Regions from separate parts of the Homo sapiens genome. Here region 2 is linked to region 1. Evidence: fine-mapped expression QTL. A gene starts in region 1. The other region holds a variant in brackets. All regions are shown on one strand. Distances are from middle to middle. Region 1 holds the start of FLCN (folliculin). Region 2 overlaps COPS3 (COP9 signalosome subunit 3).

Region 1 (5,000 bases):
AACCTGGGAGACGGAGGTTGCAGTGAGCTGAGATCGCACCATTGCACTCCAGCCTGGGCAATAAGAGTAAAACTCCATTTCAAAAAATACAAAATACGAAAATTAGCCAGGCCTGGTGGCACGTGCCTGTAGTGCCAGCTACTCAGGAGGCTGAGGCAGGAGAATCGTTTGAGCCTGGAAGCGGAGGTGGCAGTGAGCCGAGATCGCATCACTGCACTCCAGCCTGGGCGACAGAATGAGATTCTGTCTCCAAAAAAGAAAGAAAGAAAGAAAGAAAGCAAAAGCACTTGTCAGACGAGAGCTCTGACTCTGACTCCATGGATCATGTGCACCAGAGGCCCAGGCAGCCCCTGAAAGAGAGGGAGGTGCCCTACAGAGCACTTAGCTTTGCGGTCACCGGAGCCTGCCCTCACCAGCCAGGTGACACCAAGTGTTACTAGACCTCTCTGAATACCACCCAAAAGCTGAGAAACAGAGGCCTCTCAGAATTCGCATTACACATGGAATCAGAATTCTGGGCAGCGTGAGGTCATTCTTCACTCACTGTTCAATTCCAATCTCTACCAGGTGTTTGCTGAAGAAAACAAACTGGTTTGAGTGTGTCTCACGAGTCTGTTTCCAACAAGCTTTCCAGAACCCACATAGGAAGCCGAAATGCCCTGGCTGACAGTCTCTTCATCAACATATCCAAAGACAGTATTCAAATTCCCTGATGTGGTAGAGTGTCTGTTCATGTCCCCCTCCCACAATGGCTGAGTCCCAGACCTGGACAGTGACCTCACCACCACCCGTGGTGCGCCCTGGCCCTATTTCAACCCTACTTCCTATGGTGTTCTCATAGCACCGTGGAGAATTAAAGAGGCCACTAAGTAAGGGCACTCTAAATAAACAAAGCACTATAACGGATCTTAACCAGCAGTGGACACACAGCTTCTATAACTAGTCTCCCACTGGGGAGCCTCATTAAGTTAGCAGCTGGGATCCCAACAAGCCCAGGGTGAAAAGTTCTGCAGGGGATGACTGCCAGTTCAGATCCACTCTCACTGTGGCTCTATTTCCACCGTTTCCCTGGATTTCCATTCACAGAGCTCCCTGACATAGGACACTAGAAGGGCAAACGCAGTGTCACCTGCCACTATTACTCAATTACTTGATGACCACGGTGATAATCTGGCACTAAACTGGCTGTGGCCAAAGGCTAGAGAGCCAGAACCTACTTCCAGCAAGCTCCTCCTTGCCCTGTGTCCCCACTTGAAGAGACTGCTAGTGACCACACCTTGGACTTCAATCCACAAGCCAATCCATTCTTTCCAGGAGACAAGGACGCGACTGACAGTACTCTCAACTGGAGAGAAGCGCGGTCTTCCACCCTCCCTGGAGGACACGGTGCTACCCTATTAGCGCATCAGAGGACCCTCCTGAACGCCAAACTGGGAGAAGAGGATGACACACACCCTCTCCTCCAAACAGAGCGAAGACAAAACCTGGGAGAAGGGAAGGCAAACAGTCCCGTTTCATGGCAACATCAAATGAGATCACAGTCCTCATCCCCATAGACTTGGTTAATGGGCGTGCCCCCAACCTATCTTCAAATCTCAGGGTCTCGGCGACGCCCTGGACTCTGGCCCTAAACCCTCCCCCATTACTCGTCCACCTGGGACCAACGAAAACTCGGACATGCCCCTCCGCCAACCCCTCAGACCCCCGCCTACCTGCTCCCCAAATCGAGGCCCGCGGGACACCTGGACTCGGCAGCCGGGGTCCCGCTCTGGGTCCCAGCCCCGCCCCTGACTGCGCTGGGTAGGTGGTCGCTGCGGGACCCGGACCGGCGGAATCACACCCAGAGCCCCCAAGCCCACGGCAGGGATGTCACCCGGGGTGGCGAGGCTCTCAAGCCCGGGTTCAGGCTCTCAGGGGAGCTGGCAGAACCAGGAGCGACCACACTCACTCGCGGTCCCGCAGCCCCGCCGACACCCAGGCGCGTGACTCCCTGAGCCGTACCACCACCCAACACTGCGGTGGGGGTGCGGGAGCCGTCCGAGCGCGTCCTGCACCGCGAGGAGAGCCGGGCCTCCCTAGCTCTCGCAAGCCCAGGAACACAGTCCGAGTCCTACAACTCCGAGGTCTGACTGGGAAGCAGGGGCCGCTGCCCGACAATTACCCTTTTCCACCGCCCCTATTCCGGTGCCCCCCTCTGGGAAGTTCCGAATGGTTCAGACCGCACCAGCTGGGGATGCTGGGGGAAACCATTTCATTAAGCGCGGGAGTATGCTGAAACTTAAAAATCATTTTAAAAAGAGATTTGAGGGTAAATATAGCCAACCTAAGGCTTCCTGTCCACATAAAAGAGAAAAATAAAGAAAAAACGTTATAAGAGGTTGGCAGGCTTTTTTTTTTTGCTTCACCAATGGTTTTTATTAAATTGCTGATGGAACCCGTCCTCTCCCTACATTGAGAGTATGGAAGGTGCGGGAGACGGCCGTCACGTGACGCGGAGAAGGCGCGGCGCCCGTGGGAGGTTGGTTGCAGAACTCGGAACCGCTGTGCGCGCGCATGTGTGGGATTCGGTCTTCCTCCCTCAGTGGGTCTTTTTTAAAAATGTGAAAATCAGTTTTTGAATAATATTCTTTTTTTGAGACAGAGTTTCGCTTTCGCTCTTGTTGCCCAGGCTGGAGTCCAGTGGCGCGACCTCGCCTTACTGCAACCTCCGCTTCCCGGGTTCAAGCGATTCTCCTGCCTCAGCCTCCCGAGTAGCTGGGGACTACAGGCGTCCGCCACCACGCCTGGCTAATTTTTTGTATTTTTGCAGAGACGGGTTTTCACCCTTTTGGCCAGGCTGGTCTTGAACTCCTAACCTCAGGTGATCCACCAGCCTCGGCCTCCCAAAGTGCTGGGATTACAGGCGTGAGCCACCGCGCCCGGCCTGAATAATATTTTTTAAAACTAGAGCGCCCATTACTAAATTTAGCTACTTAGAAGTTAATTGTAAAGCCATTAGTTTGTGATGTAGTGTGGGTCCTTCCAGTGAAGACCGGAGAGAGATGGGAATCAGAGCCTGACCCGCCTGTGCGCGCTGCCCCCTGAGGTGTGGCTGCCCCCTGAGGTGTGGCCGCCCCGGAGCCTTCCGCCGCGGCCGAGGCTATGGTTGCCGCAGAGTCTCCAGAATGTGCTCACCAGGAATAGAATAGAAAAGTGGGTGGTTGTGTTTTTGAAATCAGAAGTCACTTATTTTTTTCTCTTTAAATTTCCATGTTCTGGTCGGGCGCGGTGGCTCACGCCTATAATATCCCAACACTTTGGGAGGCCGAGGTGGGCGGATTACGAGGTAAAGAGATGGAGACCATCCTGGCCAACAGGTGAAACCCCCTCTCTACTAAGAATACAAAAAAAATTAGCTGGGCGTGGTGGCACACGCCTGTAGTCCCAGCTACTCTGGTGGCTGAGGCAGGAGAATTGCTTAAACCCGGGAGGCAGAGGTTGCAGTGAGCTGAGATCGTGCCACTGCACTCCAGCCTGGCACAGAGCGAGACTCCATCTAAAAAAAAAAAAAAAAATCCATGGTCTGTTGAAAACGGGACACGAGAAAAGAACGAAAGTGCAGCTTGTGTTTTCTGCCGTCTTATAGTGGCTTGGTAAAGATTAAGGAATATGGGGTGGCGTTACGAGGTTAGGCATTGCCTTTATGTGTTTAATTATTCTTATCAAGCGAATTCCTCTTGCTGTTGGACAGCGCAAACTTAATTTCTGAGGAGGTAGTAAGTTACAGGGTGATTTTATTTTATTTTATTTTAGAGACGGAGTCTTGCTATGTCTCCCAGGCTGGAGTGCAGTGGCGCGATCTCGGCTCACTGCTACCTCCACCTCCCGGGTTCAAGTTCTTGAAACTAATGTTTGTTAATGAGATTTTTAAGTCAAGAACAAGGTTTTTTTCACCTTGTAACTTTAATTCCAGGAATTACCTTTTTCAGTTTGTTAGTGGAGTTCACCACCTTGCTCAGATTATCCTTATTTCCATGGTGATAGGCTAATGGCGGAAGGTTATTCAACTAGTGTATTTTCAGTAAAAGTCAATGTGCATTTACCACACCTGGGCTCAATTTAGGCCATTAACATCTTTCCCAACACCACTGGCTTCAGCCACCTACCTCTTTTGGAGGTACTTTCTTAAATAAACCTATAAATCTTTAAAAAAAAAATTAACAACTGCCAAATCTTTGCCTCAGTGAATTGTACCAAAGGTTATTTAAATTGGGCTCTCATGGGGTATAAAAACTTTCAAGGTCATGCAACAAAAGGGACATCTTAGAAGTCGGAAAATGTGCCCATTCTCATGGGAAAGATAATTGAAACTCAGCAGTAATGTTCAGAAAGCACAGATACCAATAATGTTCAACAATTCACAACCAAATGAAATGCAATGCTAATCTCAAAGCTTCTATCCCATAATGGAAATTGTATGAAATGATTCCAGAAGCTCTGGATATGTTACTGCCTGGCATGCATACAATCCAGAATGTGTTTTTTCCACCACTGAAACAGGCTCAATCAGAATTAAGATTTTTTTCCACCACTGAAATAGGCTCAATCAGAATTAAGGTTTTTTGATGCTTTTCTGCCTTCTTACTACTGCTAAACCAAGAGGCTTCATTATAGCTGAGTATCCAAACTGATCAATCACTTCCAAGGCATCAGTTGCCAGGACCATAGAGCCAAGTGGCAGGGAAAAGTCACATCTTATTCAGAAATTTGTTTTAGAGTTTTTTATATGTACCCTTAGCCACAGGGGCTCTGATGTAGCTGTAGGATACAGCTGGGCTTTATCTTTCAGTCAAACCACATGTCAATGACTCTTAGTTTCCAGTTTCAGGAAGAAGGGGTGTATTTCATTTGTAAGCATTTCAATTTAATATTTTTAATCACATCTCATATTTTCAAGTTACTATAATTGATTCCCTGTTATAAAAATAATGATCTAAGTTTTTGTTTCTTCCAGCAACTGA
Region 2 (5,530 bases), 28 kb after region 1:
AGTTCCAGCTAGTCACGAGGCTGAGGCAGGAGAATGGTGTGAACCCGGGAGGCGGAGCTTGCGGTGAGCCGAGATCGTGCCACTGCACTCCAGCCTGGGCGACAGAGCAAGACTCCATTTCAAAAAAAAAAAAAAGAGATTCTCCTGCCTCAGTCTCCTGAGTAGCTGGGATTACAGGCGCCTGCTGCCAGGCCCAGCTAATTTTTGCATTTTTAGTAGAGACATTTTCACCATGTTGGCCAGGCTGGTCTTGAATTCCTGACCTCAGGCGATTTGCCTGCCTCGGCCTCCCAGTGTGCTGGGATTACAGGTGTGAGCCACCTCACCCAGCCTCTTGCCTTTTCTTTTTTTTTTTTTTTTTTTTGAGATGGAGTTTTGCTCTTGTTGCCCAAGCTGGAGTGCAATGGCACGATCTCGGCTCACTGCAACCTCCGCCTCTTGGGTTCAAGCAATTCTCCTGCTTCAGCCTCCTGAGTAGCTAGGATTACAGGCATGCACCACCATGCCCAGCTAAATTTTGTATTTTTAGTAGAGATGGGGTTTCTCCACGTTGGTCAGGCTGGTCTCGAACTCCCGACCTCAGGTGATCCGCCGGCCTCGGCCTCCCAAAGTGCTGGGATTACAGGCGTGAGCCACCGCACTCGGACGCCTCTTACCTTTTTAACACCCACTCATCCTGATATTTCAAGATCAAGTTTGCTCATGAGTTAACTATATTTGGCTACAGCAATGATAATGCATCCAGTGGCTACGAAGTGCATTTTTATAATTTTCCGAATGCGTAGTCTTAAAGAGAAGCCACCTTGAAGATTTAACCTGACTAGACACGTGCTTTAATGACACCATCTCTGCCTACTGGCACCTTATGGTGGCCCTCCTCAGGTCCCCTCAACAGGACACATCAACCACTCATTGTGGTATGGTTCAGAGCCACGGATGTGTGTACATGTATGCATGTGTATTATGTATTAGAATTCCAACTAAACCGAGCTCTCTGAAGGTTTTAAATATCCTTTATTACTTAATACATGCTATGAACTAAATAGGAACTTACGAACATCTAACTAATTTACCTTAAGTAAAGTGGTTTATTAATCAATATTGTGTATCTCTTTTTCAGAGTCTGAGTAAACCTCCAGAATATTCTACCAAATTGTGTACTATGTTTCATTACACAGACACAGAAAGGGTGGGAGGGACTTTTACTGTGTACTCCTTTCTACCCTTTAAATTTTGAATCAAGAGAATGTTTCACTGATTAAATAAAACTTAACAAAATACCACACATGGTTTTAGAATAAGACACAACCAAGATCACTCAGTTCAATCTCTTCCTTATATGCAAAGGAAGCTATAAAGGTCAAGAGATGTCATAACTTATTCCAAATCAGATAAGGTATAAGTGCAAGCCTAGATTAGAACCCCCAGACAAGTGCTCTTCTATGCACTGGCGCTGCTCCTCAACTTAGGGATCAGGTTACCACTATTTACATGATCACAGAGAAGTAGTCTCTGAAAGGACCAACACCTGAAACGGAGGCCCTGGGATCAGACCACTCTAGCCACAAACCTATGGGAGCACTTTTTTGATCACACAAGTTCAGAACAACCTCAGCTAATTTTTAGAGAGATTACCTGTTCATAAAAGTAGAGAGCTCTTTCAAAGTTCTTCAGCCCAGTATAGATCATCCCTCCATAATAATAGTAACATAAAAAGTGTTTTGCATCATAGGCTCCATTCTCTTTACAGATATCCATCATATCCACGTCAAGATATGGAAGGGCAGGCTTAAAGCATTTTGCTAGCAAACAAAGCTGTGAACAAATTGATATTAAATCATCACTTTAATTTTACTTAGGCAGGTATTAGCAGAAGGAGAAAATTCATTGATTCCAGAAATTTCCAAATAATGTAATTGTGTTTTACATTTTATTGACTAAAATTATCTAAATGTCAACACATTTCATGTATCTGCTATCTGAAATGCTTAGGACCACAAGTGTTTCAAATTTTGGAATATTTGCAGAATACATACCAGTTAAGCATCCCTAATCTGAAAACCTGAAATCCAATTGCTCCAATGAGCACTTTGAGTGCCAAGTTGGCATTCTAAAGATTTCAGATTTTGGAGCATTTTGGGTTTCAAATTTTTGGATTGGGTTTCAAATTTTCAGATTAGGAATAGTCAACCTGTACTCCATTTTCTTAGCCATTCAGAAAAAAACAGCATTACCTTTTTTTTTTTTTTTGAAATGGAGTCTCACTCTGTCACACAGGCTGGAGTGCAGTGGCGTCATCTCAGCTCACTGCAACCTCCACCTCCCGGGTTCAAGTGATTCTCCTGCATTAGCCTCCCGAGTAGCTGGGATTACAGGCGTGCACCACCACACCCAGCTAATTTTTGTATTTTTAGTAGAGACAGGGTTTCACCACATTAGCCAGGCTGGTCTCGAACTCCTGACCTCAAGTGATCCGTCCACCTTGGCCTCCGAATGTGCTAGGATTACAGGCGTGAGCCACCTCACCTGGGGGAGCATTTCTTTATAAAAAGCTAAACAGCTATAAGGCCAAGCATGCTATAGATGATTGAGAATAGAGAACTCTACAGACAAGACTCACTTATCTCTTAACCTATCCCTACCCATCTGATTAGAGGGAAAAAGAGTGTGTCCTCTTTCTTTACTGAACTAGTGGAATAGAAAGAGACCAGCATGGTGTGATACAAGTAGAAGTGGTTCCTTTAATTAATCCTTTAGGTAAATACAGGGAATTGTGCAACTCAAGAAAGCAAGCCCTTAGAACAGTTATCTAGCTAATGGAGACGCAGTGTAGACATGCGTACAAACTCACTGAGCTATACACTTTAGTATTTTACTGTCT[A/G]TATGTTGTACCTCAATCACAATTTTTTTAAAACATTAAAAAGCACATCTTCATATGAAACTAGAACATGTGTTTGAAATAATCCACATACCATGTTATTCTTGAAGGAAACAATGTAAATATCCCATGCAGACTTCTAAAACCATCGCATACTCATATTATAGAATACTCCGTACCTGTAGAGTACTGCTACAGAATCATCTCCAAGATATGTTAAATACAAAAAGCAAGCTACATAAGAGTATGCATAGATTATTACAATTTGTGTAAAAAATGAGAAAATATATATTCGTATTTGCTTTTATGTCCATAAAAAGTTTTTGGAAGGATACACGAGAAATAACTAACATAGTTTCCTTTGTAGAGAAGAAATAGATGGCTAGCAAACAGAATGGGAAGGAGACTTCATTATATACCTGCCCTTTTGCCTTCTGGACTTTGAACATCGCAAAATAAGATAAATAAATGAGGCCAGGCACGGTGGTTCACACCTGTAATCCCAGCACTTTGGGAGGCTGAGGTGGGCGGATCGCTTGAAGTCAGGAGTTCAAGACCAGCCTGACCAAAATGGTGAAACCCCATCTCTACTAAAAATACAAAAATTAGCCGGGTGTAGTGGTGCACGTCCACAATCCCAGCTACTCAGGAGGCTGAGGAAGGAGAATTGCTTGAACCTGGGAGGCGGAGCTTGCAGTGAGCCTAGATCATGCCACTGCACTCCAGCCTGGGCAACAGAGCAAGACTCCATCTCAAAAAATAAAAAAAAAAAAGATAAATGAATAACATTTTAAGGTGTAAGAAGTTAGCTATGTTAAGTCTCAGGTTCCACAATTTTTTTTTAGTAGAGATGGGATTTCTCCATGTTGGTCAGGCTGGTCTGGAACTCCGGACCTCAGGTGATCCGCCCGCCTCAGCCTCCCAAAGTGTTGGGATTACAGGCGTGAACCACTGCACCTGGCAGGCTCCACAATTTTAAAAAAATGATTCGGGATTTTAAAAAAAGTTACAGGCCGGGCACAGTGGCTCACGCCTGTAATCCCAGCACTTTGGGAGGCTGAGGCGAGCGGATCACGACGTCAGGAGATTGAGACCATTCTGGCTAACACAGTAAAACCCCGTGTCTACTAAAAATACAAAAAAATTAGCCAGGCGTGATAGCGGGCGCCTGTAGTCCCAGCTACTCGGGAGGCTGAGGCGGGAGAATGGCGTGAACCCGGGAGGCGGAGCTTGCAGTGAGCTGAGATGGCGCCAGCCTGGGCGACAGAGCAAGACTCCGTCTCAAAAAAAAAAAAAAAAAAAAGTTACAACTAGGGCCGGGTGTGGTGGCTCACACCTGTAATCCTAGCACTTTGGGAGGCTGAGGCGGGTGGATCATGAGGTCAGGAGTTCAACGCCAGCCTGGCCAACATGGTGAAACCCTGTTCTACTAAAAATACAAAAATTAGCTAGGCTTGGTGGTGGGTGCTTGTAGTCTCAGCTACGCGAGAGGCTGAGGCAGGAGAATTGCTTGAACCCGGGAGGCAGAGGTTGCAGTGAGCTGAGATTGTGCCACTGCACTCCAGCATGGGCGACAAAGTGAGACTGTCTCAAAAAAAAAAAAAAAAAAAGTTACAACTATTAATTACCCTATCTGTTCGACAAGCTTACTAGTTGAGCCCCATCCTACAGTTTGCATCCAGCACCCGCCTGAATGTAATAGATGTACCTACATATTCCAACTTCTATAACACATCACAATATCGCCAACTTGCCTGTGTTTATCAAACCCAATGTTGAGCAAGCCCATAAACAACCTACACCTCTGACTTGGTGTGAATCACACACTTTGGTTGCTTACCTGGCAGAGATCAGCATGTATTGAGGTCAGCTGGTTTGTATTCATCTGCATCTTGTCTATGGCTTGCTTAAGGATGCCAATTCCTCGCAGGGGCTGTCAGAAATGACATCTCTTTCAGATAAGTTCTCAAAGATGGCAGCACATTGGATCTTATGTTGTCACTTATAAATAAAAAATAACACTAATTGATAGGTTCCTTTAAATAGCAATATGAGGTTTCCATACTCTTTCAGGAAATTTCTGTCCCATTTAAGTCAGAAAACTTTTCTTAAGCTGTTTCTTGGAATTTTTAGATAACTCAGCACCATTTTTTAAATCATAAAAAGCTTTTATTTTTACAATGAAGATCAATAATCAAAAACAGTATTACTTTCTCAACAGTTTATTATATTAACATCTAAACAAATGAAAACTTTCCAAATCACTTATTATACAAGAGACAACAGCCTATGCTTAGGAAAATTACTTGTGGCTAAGGGTGTTGGCATTTTCCCATAGGGCAGTCTACCCCTTACCTGGTAGTAAATTACTACCAAAACTAACACCATAGATTTCAAAAGGACTGTTTCCTGCCCTGATTATAAATAAGAAGACCAAGTGTCAAGTAAGGCATAATCAGTTTTTGGCAGACTAAAATATAGTCTCTTCCAAAATTGCTGGGCACGGTGGCTCACACCTGTAATCCCAGCATTTTGGGAGGCCAAGATGGGTGGATCATGAGGTCAGGAGATCAAGATTATCCTGGCCAACATGGCAAAACCCCATGTCTACTAAAAATACAAAAATTAGCCGGGCATGGTGGGATGTGCCTG

What was found.
Region 2: its variant is fine-mapped to the expression of FLCN in whole blood (INTERVAL, PIP above 0.99).

Annotation. Positions count from the first base shown.
Region 1 is chr17:17,235,200-17,240,199 of GRCh38, forward strand. It overlaps FLCN (folliculin), which reads right to left and starts at 1,969. Exons shown (of 14, transcript NM_144997.7): 1 at 1,713-1,969. RefSeq lists an enhancer at 2,186-2,295 and a silencer at 2,730-2,915.
Region 2 is chr17:17,263,167-17,268,696 of GRCh38, forward strand. COPS3 (COP9 signalosome subunit 3) reads right to left here. Exons shown (of 12, transcript NM_003653.4): 5 at 4,719-4,811; 6 at 1,636-1,815. Among named protein-coding and RNA genes, the nearest start is that of COPS3, 15 kb to the right of the region's middle. The variant A/G (reference allele first, on the strand shown) is at 2,882.